Linked DNA regions of Homo sapiens: regions 1, 2 and 4 are each linked to region 3. The links come from fine-mapping of genetic effects on gene expression. A gene starts in region 3. Each other region holds a variant in brackets. All regions are shown on one strand. Distances are between the middles of the regions.

Region 1 (2,680 bases), 27 kb before region 3:
TACCTCCTCACCACCGTGTCCATCAGCACCACCATCACCACCCAATGCTACCACACTGTCACCATCACCACCACATCACCACCCCACTATCACCCTTAGAAATAACCCACCACCACTGCCAGGATCACCACCATCAGAAACAGCAACTCCATCACCATAGCAACAACACAAACATCACAACCACCATCTGCCAGGCAATTCATCATGGAGCCATAGTTCTTAGATGTAGACATAGCCAGGGAACTGTGAAGCTAAACTGAAAGGGAGAAGTCAATTGAATCAGATTTTCCAAGTGGGAACTCCTTTCATGGAGACCAGGCTTGCACCCAGCTCTTTTGTGGCCGGAACCCAGCATCCTGCTCACAGCATTGAAATGTCTCAGAGATGGCTGAGCTGATCCCAAAGGCCTGCGATTGTGTTTTTGGGAGAAACACACGTGAGTCACTGGGGCTGACATTCTTTGGGATCTGACAAAGTTTCTACTTTGGGGACCTGCTAACTGACTCAGCAGCGATTCACTGAGGAAAACCAACAGGGCAGCTGGGAAAACGTGCCCCATCAGTGTGTGCTGGGGCCACTGTGCGCTGGAGCTGGGGCTGGGGGCTGCACACTCGGCTTCTTGCTGAATTCTGTATAGAACTCTAGGTGGAACTGAGCCTCAGAGAGATGATGTGGGGCACCCCAAGGGTGCACAATGAGTAACAGGTAGAGGCAGAACTTGAACCAAAATCCCTGTGACCCTAGAGCCTCCAGTCATCATTGCCCTGTGCTATCACCACATGGTCACCGGGCTGGCCTTCCATCTGCTGCACCCTCATGGACCTGGGAGCCCTGCTCTGGCTTGCACCCAGCTTTCCAGGAGGATGCCTGGGTCGTCCTGGGGGTGTTTAGAGTGTACCCCATCAAAGCCTCCTGCATAGGGAGGCAGTGGCACATCACAGCTAGAGGCCTCTCTGGGGTACAGACCACCCTCCTAGGCTGCCACAGAATGGGGAAGTGTCAGGTTTCCACTAGGAAAGAATGACTCAAGTTGGGAAAACTACTGGGTACAGGGAAACCATAGGGGCAGGCAGTGCACCACAGTCCATGCCCCAGGGCTGCGGCCACCCTGAGGCTGAAGGTTTAAGGGAAGGCATAAGCCATGCCAGAACCTGGAAAGGAGGGAATGTTGGAGAGGGGCCTGCCTTGGGAGAAGCTTAAGACCTTCAGTCTAGGGACACAGCCTGCCCAAAGTGACCCCAAAGCTTTCGATGCTGTGACATGAATATTCTGACTTCACCCTCCCCTCTCCCTTTCACCTACAGCTGGGGCACTCCCAAAAGGAAGCCAGAGGGCATGGGAGCTGAGGAATG[A/G]GTCCATCGGGCTTAGCCCCTGAAGCAGAGAGCAGAGCAGAGGGCAGGCCTGGAGGGGCAAAAGAAGGCATTTCCGGCACAGGGGTTCTTGCCCTGGACACCCACAGAACTCCTGGGGTGCAGGGACTCTTGGGGCCTCCTCAGCTTGGGCTGAAACGCTCCCCGGGTTCCTCTCTTCTTGTCTCTTGGCTCCTGCCCTGCCCTGGGGGTGGTCAGCGTTACCTCTGGGATTGACAGAGGGTCCGTCCACACCTCTCACTCTCTCCCTGCCTCACTCATGGCCTGTGTCTCCCTACCACTCTCCTGAGTCCCACTTCTCTTTCTTTTCCTCAGCTACTGTCTCCATCCCCTGAAGGATCCCGCATTGTGGTTTATCCAGACCCAACTTATGTGGGTGTTAGAGTGAGAGACCCAACAGTTACCTAAGACTTTTGGGGAGGCAGGCTGGGGGCACCCTGTGCAGTCTGCAGGGGAAGGATGCAGCCCTGGGGAGGAAGGACACCCGCTGCCCTGGCATCTGCACACAGGGCACTGGGTAATGATTCCCCCGGGTGAATGTCTGGCTCAGGAATGTGGACTTTCCCAGGGGTGGGAAGTTGGTGGCGAGAAGGAGAAACGCCCTTGGTTTGGGGACTCCTGCAACGCGCCCTGAGGCCGGAGGTTGAAAAGCATAGAAAGTTGAGGTCTCTGCTGGAGTTACCCACCAAAGGAGGGTACCACTGGATGGGGTGATAGGTGGCCAAAGTGGGGGAGACAGGAGGCAGCGGCCAGGGGGAGCATGAAATCCTTCCAATCTCAGGTCTTCCAGCAGGTCTGGGGGTCCTCAGGGGGTTGCAGGTGGCCCTGGAAGTATCTCTGGGGACCAACGTGCACATGGCCCCATCTACACGCACCCCTTCATCCTGGGCTGTGCTCACTGCCTTCTTGCAAGGAGCAGAACTCACCACCACTGTCCCTGTGGGTGCCAGCAGAACGCCCAGAGTCGTTGCCAGTGGTCAGCCTGTAGAGCACCCCTTCCCTCTGCAGAGCTTGCATCCATGTTGGGAAGTCCCCAGGCTCCACGTCCAGCATCGTGGTGCACAAACACCTCCGCCTTCCTGCCCCTCTGTAGCCTTTGACATTGACTCCCTCGTCAGACAGTAAGGGAGCGTGTCCTCCAGGCTCTGGGAAGTGCGGTGAACCCACCTCCCTTTCTGCTTTAGCGGAGCTCAGAGCCTGCTGAGGGAGGAAACACAGGCACTGTGCCTGCACATAGAGAAAGGCCTCACTCGGCCTTGAAGGCCACCCAGTGTGGGTGACAATGGACTACACTGGAAACCTTGCTAGAC
Region 2 (2,680 bases), 140 kb after region 3:
CCCGGGATGGGGCGGGGGCCGGGAAGCTTGGCAGGGAGGCTGGGGCCACCACGGGGAAGAAGGACGGAGCCTGAGGATGAAAAGCCAAGGAGAAAAGGGGAGAAGATGAGGACAGGCGGCCACAGCCCACAGGCGGCCCCAAACACAGCTCAGCAGCACAAGGACCGCGCTCTGGGCCTCTGATGGCAAGGGGGTCAGCGCGGGAAACCGGCTTCATCCCCCAGGAAGGGGACCGGTGGACCCCCAGCAGCACCTCCCTCCAGCTCGCCCCTCCAACCTCCATCAAGAAGCCTTAGGTGGGACCTGTAGCCCTAAGCTGGGGCGCACAGGCCTGCAGGGTCCCCTGACATCCTCACAGTCACCCTGGACCGGAGGCCAGTCCTGCCTTCTACTAGCTGAGTGACCTCGGGCAAGTTGTGCAACCTCTCAGAGCCGCAGATCCTGCCTTAGAAAGTGAAGCAAATACCTCCTGCTTTGAAGGATTAGGGGAGAGAGCACTTCTCAGGGGCCACGCCCAGCGCCTGGGCACAGAGATCCTGGCCCCTGCCTCTCAGTGGATGCCTTCAGAAAGGCCTCCACATCTTTTCTGAAATAACAGTGTCTGCCCAGCCTTCTCTGACTGCCACACGCGCGCACACACACACACACACACGCATACACATGTATACATGTGTGTGCACACAGACTCACACGTGTGCACACCCAATAAGGACACATTGACCTCTACAGGCTCTGCCCCCCAAGTCCAGCTCTGGCCTCTCACAGCCGAGTTTCTGTGAGTGAGAGATAAACCGCCAGAACTGCCCCCTCTAACTCCAAGCCTACATCCTGTAAAGCAAAGGGGCCCCAGTTGGAGCTAGGGGGCTGAGCGTGAGGAACAGAGGTCTCTGGCGGCTGGGTCCTGGGAGTCCGGCCAGTTCTCACCAGCAAATGTCCAGCCTGAGCTACAGAGAACAGCAATGGGGGCCTTCCTGGCCACAGGGATCTGGGGCCCATCGCTGGTCGCCGGAAGCCAGCTCTTCAGTTCCTTCCCAGTCTACAAAATGAGTGTCCTCCCTGCCAAGCCTTTCCAGAAGGTTCAAACGGGACCACACGTTCAAACGGGAAGTGGAGC[A/G]TGATGCCAACTCACCTTGGGCCGGGCACCGCCTAAGCTGCCTTCCCGCAGCCACCCTGGAGCCCCTGCCTGGACTGGCAGAGGCTGTCTGGGAAGCATGCCTGGCCCTTCCTCCATCTGTGGTGTGCCCTGCACCCACTGGGCTGCCTGGCACTGCTGTCAAAGGCCACTCACTTAGGGAACGTTGAGCTCTGGGCTTGTTTTCCACGCGCAGCGGTTTGAAGATCACTTCGAACGTGGGTGGGGAGTTAGCTCTCTGGACCCCGTCATAGAGTAAGTCATCGATAGAGCATTTGCTTGATGGGGACTTCCAGAAGGCCAGGGAAAGTCCTGCCGACTTCCTGGGGAAGCCCATCCGCACGTGGGGTGAGGGTCCCCAGATGGGAGCAGCTGTGTATGCAGGGAGGGGGCAGAGGCTGCTGCCAATGGGCATGTCCCTTACCTGAAAGGGCCACCTCTCCAGGTGACATGTCCTGGGGGAGCCGGGGCCGTCTGCTCCGGCCAGAGGCGCTCAGCTCAGGCCACACCAGGCAGGGCACCTCCCAACCTGGACAGGTGGGGACCAAGGTGGCCTTGGACAAAACTCTCTGTGTTTGCCAAGCACCCAATCGGACACAGAGAGTCAACCACACCCCAGTCACATGGTGTCCACACGCAGGGGTCAAGGAGGCCCGGCCCCTCCCCCTCAGACGTCCCTGGGCCTCTGGGAGTCAGCAAGGACGAGGACGGCATGCCCTTCGAGACAGGAAGGGAGTGACCTCCTCCCAGCGGCATCCAGGCTCGGCTTCTCCGGAGAGGAGAGGGGGCTACTTGCTGGATAAAGCGGCCGGGGCCACAGAGAAAAAGCAAGTGACCATGAGCACGTTGCAGACACAGTGCACCGACAGCATTGCAGCACGGGGACTGTGAGACCTCCCATTCTCGGGGGAAACTCCCCAAGTCCCCCCACCATCAGCAGTGATGTGACTGGGGCGGCGACCTGTGCTGGGAGCCTCCACCAGCTCCTGCGCCTCAGGCCCTGCTGCCCTGCACCTTCGCTTCCAGTAGGACCCTTCTCCAGGGCATTCTGGGCCACAGGAGCCACCCCAGTGCACAGAGACCCGAAGGCCCAGGAAGTTCCCTCCCCCAGGCAGCCCTTAACCTAAGGCTGACCTGGGCAGGACGTAGCCCAGCTTCCCTGCTTTGGACCAGGACAAACTAGAGGCCACTCTGAACCCCCAGAGCTCCCCCTGAAAATCCCAGGGACGTGCGGCTGTGCCTGGAGTCGCCCCCTTCCCAGACTGCTCCCCTTCATCTTGCCCTCCCTGCTCCTCCCTCCTGTGTCTCCCCATCACACCACCCCCCGAGTTACCCGCCTGTGAATATAATCCAGGATAAGAGTGACGAGCGCCTCATCAGCGCAGACCCAGACCCCGCCAATGGGAACGCATGGAGCTGGGCGGTGGTGGCTCCCAGCCCCGGGCCTCTGAGGATGGATCCGGGGATGCTCCCAGCCCCGGGCCTCTGAGGATGGATCCGGGGATGCTCCCAGCCCCGGGCCTCTGAGGATGGATCTGGGGATGCAAG
Region 3 (2,645 bases):
ACGTGGCTGGATTTAGGGTCTGAGATGAACTTTCCTGCTCCTGAATGGACTCTGAGGAGAAGGAAGATACTACCATCCGTAATCCACCCCGGGAAGGCACTGACCTCCTTGACCATGGGGAGGATGAGAGGCCGCCGCTCTGTGCCTGGGTCCCCATGGCCTCTAGGGTCCCTTCACGTTTTCACCTCATGATCCTGGAAGCTGGGACCTGCCCAAATCCACCGGGTGGCCCCAGCCTCCCCATCTCTGGGGCAGGGGGTGGGCAGCCTTCTCCTCCTGGTTTATAGCCACAGATGACTCCAGGCACAGTGGTCCTCAACCGCCTCTAGGGACCATGGGGACGGCTGCCCTCTGTGTGTGACGGTGGCTGGGCAGAAGCCAGCTGGGCTGTCGTGGGTAGGGCCTGGAGGCCTCTGGCTGTATGGTGGTCTAGCTTTGGCACCACCTTGGGGGGCTCCGGGTAGGAGGTGTCCACCAGAGGGGACCTGGGCAGCTCAGCAGAGGCTTGGTCACTCCCGAGCCGTCTGTGGGTCCCACTGGTCTGTACCCTCAACCCCACTGACCTGCACTGGTCATGCCCAGCTCTCACAGGATGATGGCCCCAGCCTTGTAATGAGTCACCTGCTGCCCTCCTGCCCCTCCAGCTGGTCCCCCACCCAGCAGCCACAGGGCTTTCCTTAAAACATAAGAAAGACCCTGCTTCTTACCTGCTCAGATCCCACCAAGAACCGGCCACCTCACTCCAGATAAACTCCAGACTCTTCACTGAGCCCAAAGGCAACGAGCAGAAGTGTCCAGAAATCACACAGAGCTCAGCAGGTGGTGAGGCACCTGGACCCGAGTCACCCAGCAGCTGAACAGGCCATCCCTGAGGCCATGCACGCCCCGGCCCTGCAGGTGTGACGGCCGAGGCTTCCACGACGGGGGGTGAGTGGGAGCTAATATGGCTGGTGAAAGCACTGGGTTCAGTGGGGATGGCATCTCCCGCCCTCTGTCCAAGGTGGGGAAAAAGTCAGCTTCAGGTGAGGGAGACCCTGGACGCCTGGCTTTGGGCTGATTCCCCACTCACTTGGCCTCTCCCAAGCATACTTTCCTGCTTTGTAGGGATGTGGGTTCGCGGGACAGTAACAGGAGAATCAAGGCAAGAACTCAGAGGGGGATAGCCAAGGTAGGCGGAGCTGCCTGGTGGGTGGGACTAACCCAGGTGGGTGGGGCTGCTTGTGAGTGGGGCTAGCCCAGGTGGGTGGGGCTGCCTGGTGGGCAGGGCTTTCTTCCCCGTCAACATTTCCCTCTCTCGGTTAAGGCCAGGGCAGAGCCCACACATGGGTGTGCCCAACCTTAAGGCCTGCCCTGGGTGAGTTAAGACTCCCCAGCTCACCTAGGTCCTACCTGAGGGGAACCTACACGGCCAACCTCCTCAAGGATCCTGAAGCCACCCAGAAGACAGTGGGGCTAGGGTGCCATTCATTCATTCATTTATTCATTCACCTATTCATTTATTTACTCGCTTCACCACCCTTTCCTGGGTAATATTAAGAATAACAGTGGGCCTAGGAATATAGAACATTCTTAGGGGTTTCTTGCAGGCCAGGCACCCTAAGAAAAAGTTATGTAACCCACGTGGCCTCGCTGTGAGGGGGACGACTGCTGTCCTCACTTAATAGATGAGGAGCTGAGCCATGGAGGCCTCACAGCTGGGCAGCTGGGGGTGGACCCCATAGACTGGAGGGGGATGGGCAGGGGCAAGGAGTTCTGCTGGCCCCAGGCCTCTTGTACACATCTTGGGAAGTACTAAAAATGAGTACTTGCTCAAGTCCCTCTCTTCATTGAGCACAGGGAGCTCTTGGCCCTTCCCTCCTCCTCCCTTTACCCTCACCGCCCAATTCCACACGGGTGTACTGAGCACTTGCTAAGGGCCAAGACCAGCACTAGGTGGAGCACACAGTAGGAACCCAAGGCAGCCCTCCCTGCCCAGCTCTCCAGGACACTGTCGTCAATGCCAGCGGGAAGCATAGAGAGGCCAGGGAAAGACGGGCAGTCAGGAGGAAGGAGCCAGCGGAGGGGAGAGAGGGCCGGCAGCTCAGTGCACCTGGACCGTGGTGGATGCTGGACTATGACCAGAGACAGGGCTGCAGCCCAGAGCTAGCCCCAGACCCACAGGGCCTCAGGGGGCTTCACAGGCTTTGTCAGGGGTTTGGACTTTCTCCCGAGGGCTGGGGACCCTGCAAGTTGCAGAAACTGGGCTATATTTGGCATTTTAGAAGCCTCCCCCAGCTGTAGTGGAGGGGAATTGGAGGGAGTGGGAGAGGAGGTTCCCATTCTCACTCAGGTGGGAGATGGTGGTGGGATGGAGGGTGACCCTGATTGATAGGACTCAGGGACAAATTAAAGGTGAGGGCCAGGGAGAGGGTTATCCAGACAGCTCCCAGGAAGATGGCAGTGGGATGGAGGGTGACCCTGATGGGACTCAGGGACAAATTAAAGGTGAGGGCCAGGGAGAGGGTTATCCAGACAGCTCCCAGGAAGATGGTGACACCAGTGAGGTGGGGAGATAGGATGGCATTTGGTTCCCACTGAGCTGGAGATGCCTGTACAAAGCTTCTAAGATACCCAAGGCAGAATCTGCAGCTCCTGCAAAGACAAGA
Region 4 (2,680 bases), 74 kb before region 3:
ACAATAAAATACCGTGGAACAGTGAAGATGAGCACACACATCAGATATCACTAACATGACATTGAGACTAAGGAGGCATACAGCTACATACAACGTGGTGTCCTGAAGTCCCAGGATCCTGGAACACAAAAAGGACATGAGTGGAAACACTGGTGGAATTTGAGCCAAAGTGTGACTTAGTTGATGGGGATGCACCAATGTAAATGTCTTAGTTTTGATCAATGGACTGTGGTTATATAAGATGTTCAGACTAGGGGAAGCTGGTGAAGAGTGTCAGGGAACTTGGCATCTGTGCAACTCTTCTGTGAATTCAACATTATTTCAAGAGGAAAAGTAAAAACAAAAGCAAGTTACAGGCAAGTATATACAATATTAGACTGCTTGTATTCAAGTGACGCTTATGGAAAATTGTTTCATATATTGTTTAGGGAGATATAAGAAGTGAGCGCATAAAGAGAGCTGAGGGCCATGCTTCTCCCCACTGCGAGTGGGGTGGGGAAGGGTTGTGGGAGACTGGGGAGGGGGAAGAGGGATGCAGGAGGGATTTCCACTACCTTGATACTGTTTTACTTCTTCAGCTGAGTAGGGGTGTGCCTAGGTGTTTATTCTATGACTCATTACACTTTTGGTATGCCTGACATATGTCATGATAATTTTTTAGAATCCTGTAAACCTTATGTAGCCCCAACTGCTCAATGCACAGGCAAAATCAACTCAAGAAATCGGCGTCAGAGAGGGGCTGGGAACGAGCCTCCAAGTTCCAGTTTGGAATCTCTCTTCACCACATGAAATGCTTCCTGGGCGGGTTTTCTGGGTGCAGACAGGAGGTTATAAGTACTCTAACAAGTTCGAGGGGCCCACTCCAGAAGGGCAGGTTCCAGCCACCCTGACTTGCCCAGGGCAGGGACACAGCCTCACTCCAGGCACATGGCTCCTTGCCCCTCTCTCCCTGACTCGAGACCTTGCCCAGACCTAGCCCCATGCCCAGGGTCTCCTGGCCCCTGAGTTGACTTTTGCTTCTAAACAAGGTGAAAAGGCAGTTGATGTAGCAAGTGGGGGTGGCAGTGTTCCCTGAGGGGTTGAGTGGGTGGTCCGTGTATGTGGGTGTGTGGTCACCGGGGCCCTGGCACTCAGAGAAGATGCCTGCTGTGCCTGAAGAGGGAGTGTGAGGCACACTGAGGGGGCTTTGCAAACACTGATGGTTTCTTCTCTTATTAAAGTCAGGCA[T/G]CTCATTAGGGCAAACCTGAGAAATGCAGAAAAAGCAAAAAATTTAAAAATAAAAGAGAAAAACAACCACATGCCCGCTTCCCCTGCCCCCCATAACCACCACTTATGCCCCGAGTTTTTCCTTTATTTTTCTGAAGTGCAATTACTAGGTCAAAGTGAATGAATAATTAAAGACTCAATGCAAAATACCAAAGATTTGACCTTTGGTATATATAGAGAGAGGGAAAGACAGAGAGAGGAATAGAACCTCCCTTCTCTAGTGAGGGGAAGGGGATCATTTTTATAGCCCAGTTTTACTTCTTGTAAAAGTCCCATGACACCAACATTCAACAGCATTCGAACTGAGTCACCTCACCCTGAAGCTCATCATTAATTTCAACATGAGATCATTTCTTCAGCCCTGCCAGTCTTCATCTACAAAGAGGCAAGTTCTGGTTTGCAAGTGACAGTTGGTAGACGTCCTTGGAAGTCAGCTTTCTCCCCGTGCCGGTTTGCCACACAGATGGGTTCACACAGCATTTTCTTGGTAGGAACTATCTGATGAGCAGCAGACACCTCTGTGGTGGATGGACTGTGGGCTCGAGGGTCCAGAGGGGGCACTCCCTGTATTTCGAGGGCTACGAAGCTTAGCTGGCCCCTATGTCTGGGCCTGGGGTTGTTTTCACAGATGATTCTGCAGGGGTGGTGTCCGCACGGTGGTGGGTTGCACTCAGTGGATCATCTCTGCACAGAAATCCCCAGCTTAGAGCTGCACTTCGTGGCACTGAGTGTGGAAAGTGAAGTTGTTGGCCTGGTGAGGATCATCAACAGGAAGCAGGTGTTGGCTGGACTGGGGAGAGCGTGTCCCAGGCCCCCCACCACCCTCCGCCCCGCTCTCCAAGCCCGGACTGCCTCATCCATAAGCCCGGACTGCCTCATCCGTAAGAAAGGACAAATAATACCAAACTCATAGACCTGTTGTGAGGTAAATACCTGGGCAAATTTTCACAGAGGCTTTAAATGCTTTAAACCAGGAATCTCCAAACTTCTTTTGCTGTCTTCCATTACTTAAAAAAAAAAAATTTTGAGCTTGCATCCCCAGTAAAATATATATAAATTTTCTTTTAATTTGTATACATGTACATCTACCATACCAATAAGTTATAAAACATTAGAAAACACATAACAATATTGAAATTAAAAAGAATGAAATTTAGGGCTGGACATGGTGGTACACACCTGTAGCCACGCCTACTAAGGAGGCTGAGGTGGGAGGATTGCTGGAACCCAGGAGTTCAAGGCTGCAGTGAGCTGTGATCACACCACTGTCCTCCGGCCTGCATCACAGAGCTAGACCTTGTCTCTTAAAAAAGAAATAAATAAATAAAAATAAAAGGGATTTTTAAAAATTTACTAATTCAATTAGTTTAAAGGTTAAAGGGCTAACACAGTTTTTAATTTCTTGAGTCTGTTT

Alleles and levels. Positions count from the first base shown, and alleles are read on the strand shown. Sizes are in standard deviations (SD) of each study's normalised expression. Not every link is listed here.
As copies of A replace G in region 1, the expression in subcutaneous fat of the gene that starts at base 1,129 in region 3 goes up (moderate effect, 0.49 SD a copy in GTEx).
For the expression in esophagus muscle of the gene that starts at base 1,129 in region 3, allele A in region 2 goes with a lower level than allele G (small effect, 0.29 SD a copy in GTEx).

The links.
Region 1: its variant is fine-mapped to the expression of MYEOV in subcutaneous fat (GTEx, PIP above 0.99). The same link has a PIP of 0.9 or more in tibial nerve.
Region 2: its variant is fine-mapped to the expression of MYEOV in esophagus muscle (GTEx, PIP above 0.99).
Region 4: its variant is fine-mapped to the expression of MYEOV in whole blood (TOPMed, PIP 0.94).

The regions. Positions count from the first base shown.
Region 1 is chr11:69,319,760-69,322,439 of GRCh38, reverse strand. No RefSeq gene overlaps it. Among named protein-coding and RNA genes, the nearest start is that of MYEOV, 27 kb to the right of the region's middle. RefSeq lists an enhancer at 950-1,816. The variant A/G (reference allele first, on the strand shown) is at 1,353.
Region 2 is chr11:69,154,564-69,157,243 of GRCh38, reverse strand. It overlaps SMIM38 (small integral membrane protein 38), which reads right to left and starts at 1,309. Exons shown (of 3, transcript NM_001369201.2): 1 at 1,130-1,309; 2 at 1-70. All of the region lies in intron 2 of LOC338694 (a long non-coding RNA gene), which reads left to right. RefSeq lists an enhancer at 828-1,755. The variant A/G (reference allele first, on the strand shown) is at 1,115.
Region 3 is chr11:69,292,639-69,295,283 of GRCh38, reverse strand. It overlaps MYEOV (myeloma overexpressed), which reads right to left and starts at 1,129. Exons shown (of 3, transcript NM_001293291.2): 1 at 708-1,129; 2 at 1-51. RefSeq lists an enhancer at 2,007-2,558.
Region 4 is chr11:69,366,632-69,369,311 of GRCh38, reverse strand. It overlaps LOC105369370 (a long non-coding RNA gene), which reads right to left. Exons shown (of 5, transcript XR_950269.4): 3 at 2,446-2,569; 4 at 2,200-2,273; 5 at 1-2,017. Among named protein-coding and RNA genes, the nearest start is that of LINC02953, 58 kb to the left of the region's middle. The variant T/G (reference allele first, on the strand shown) is at 1,228.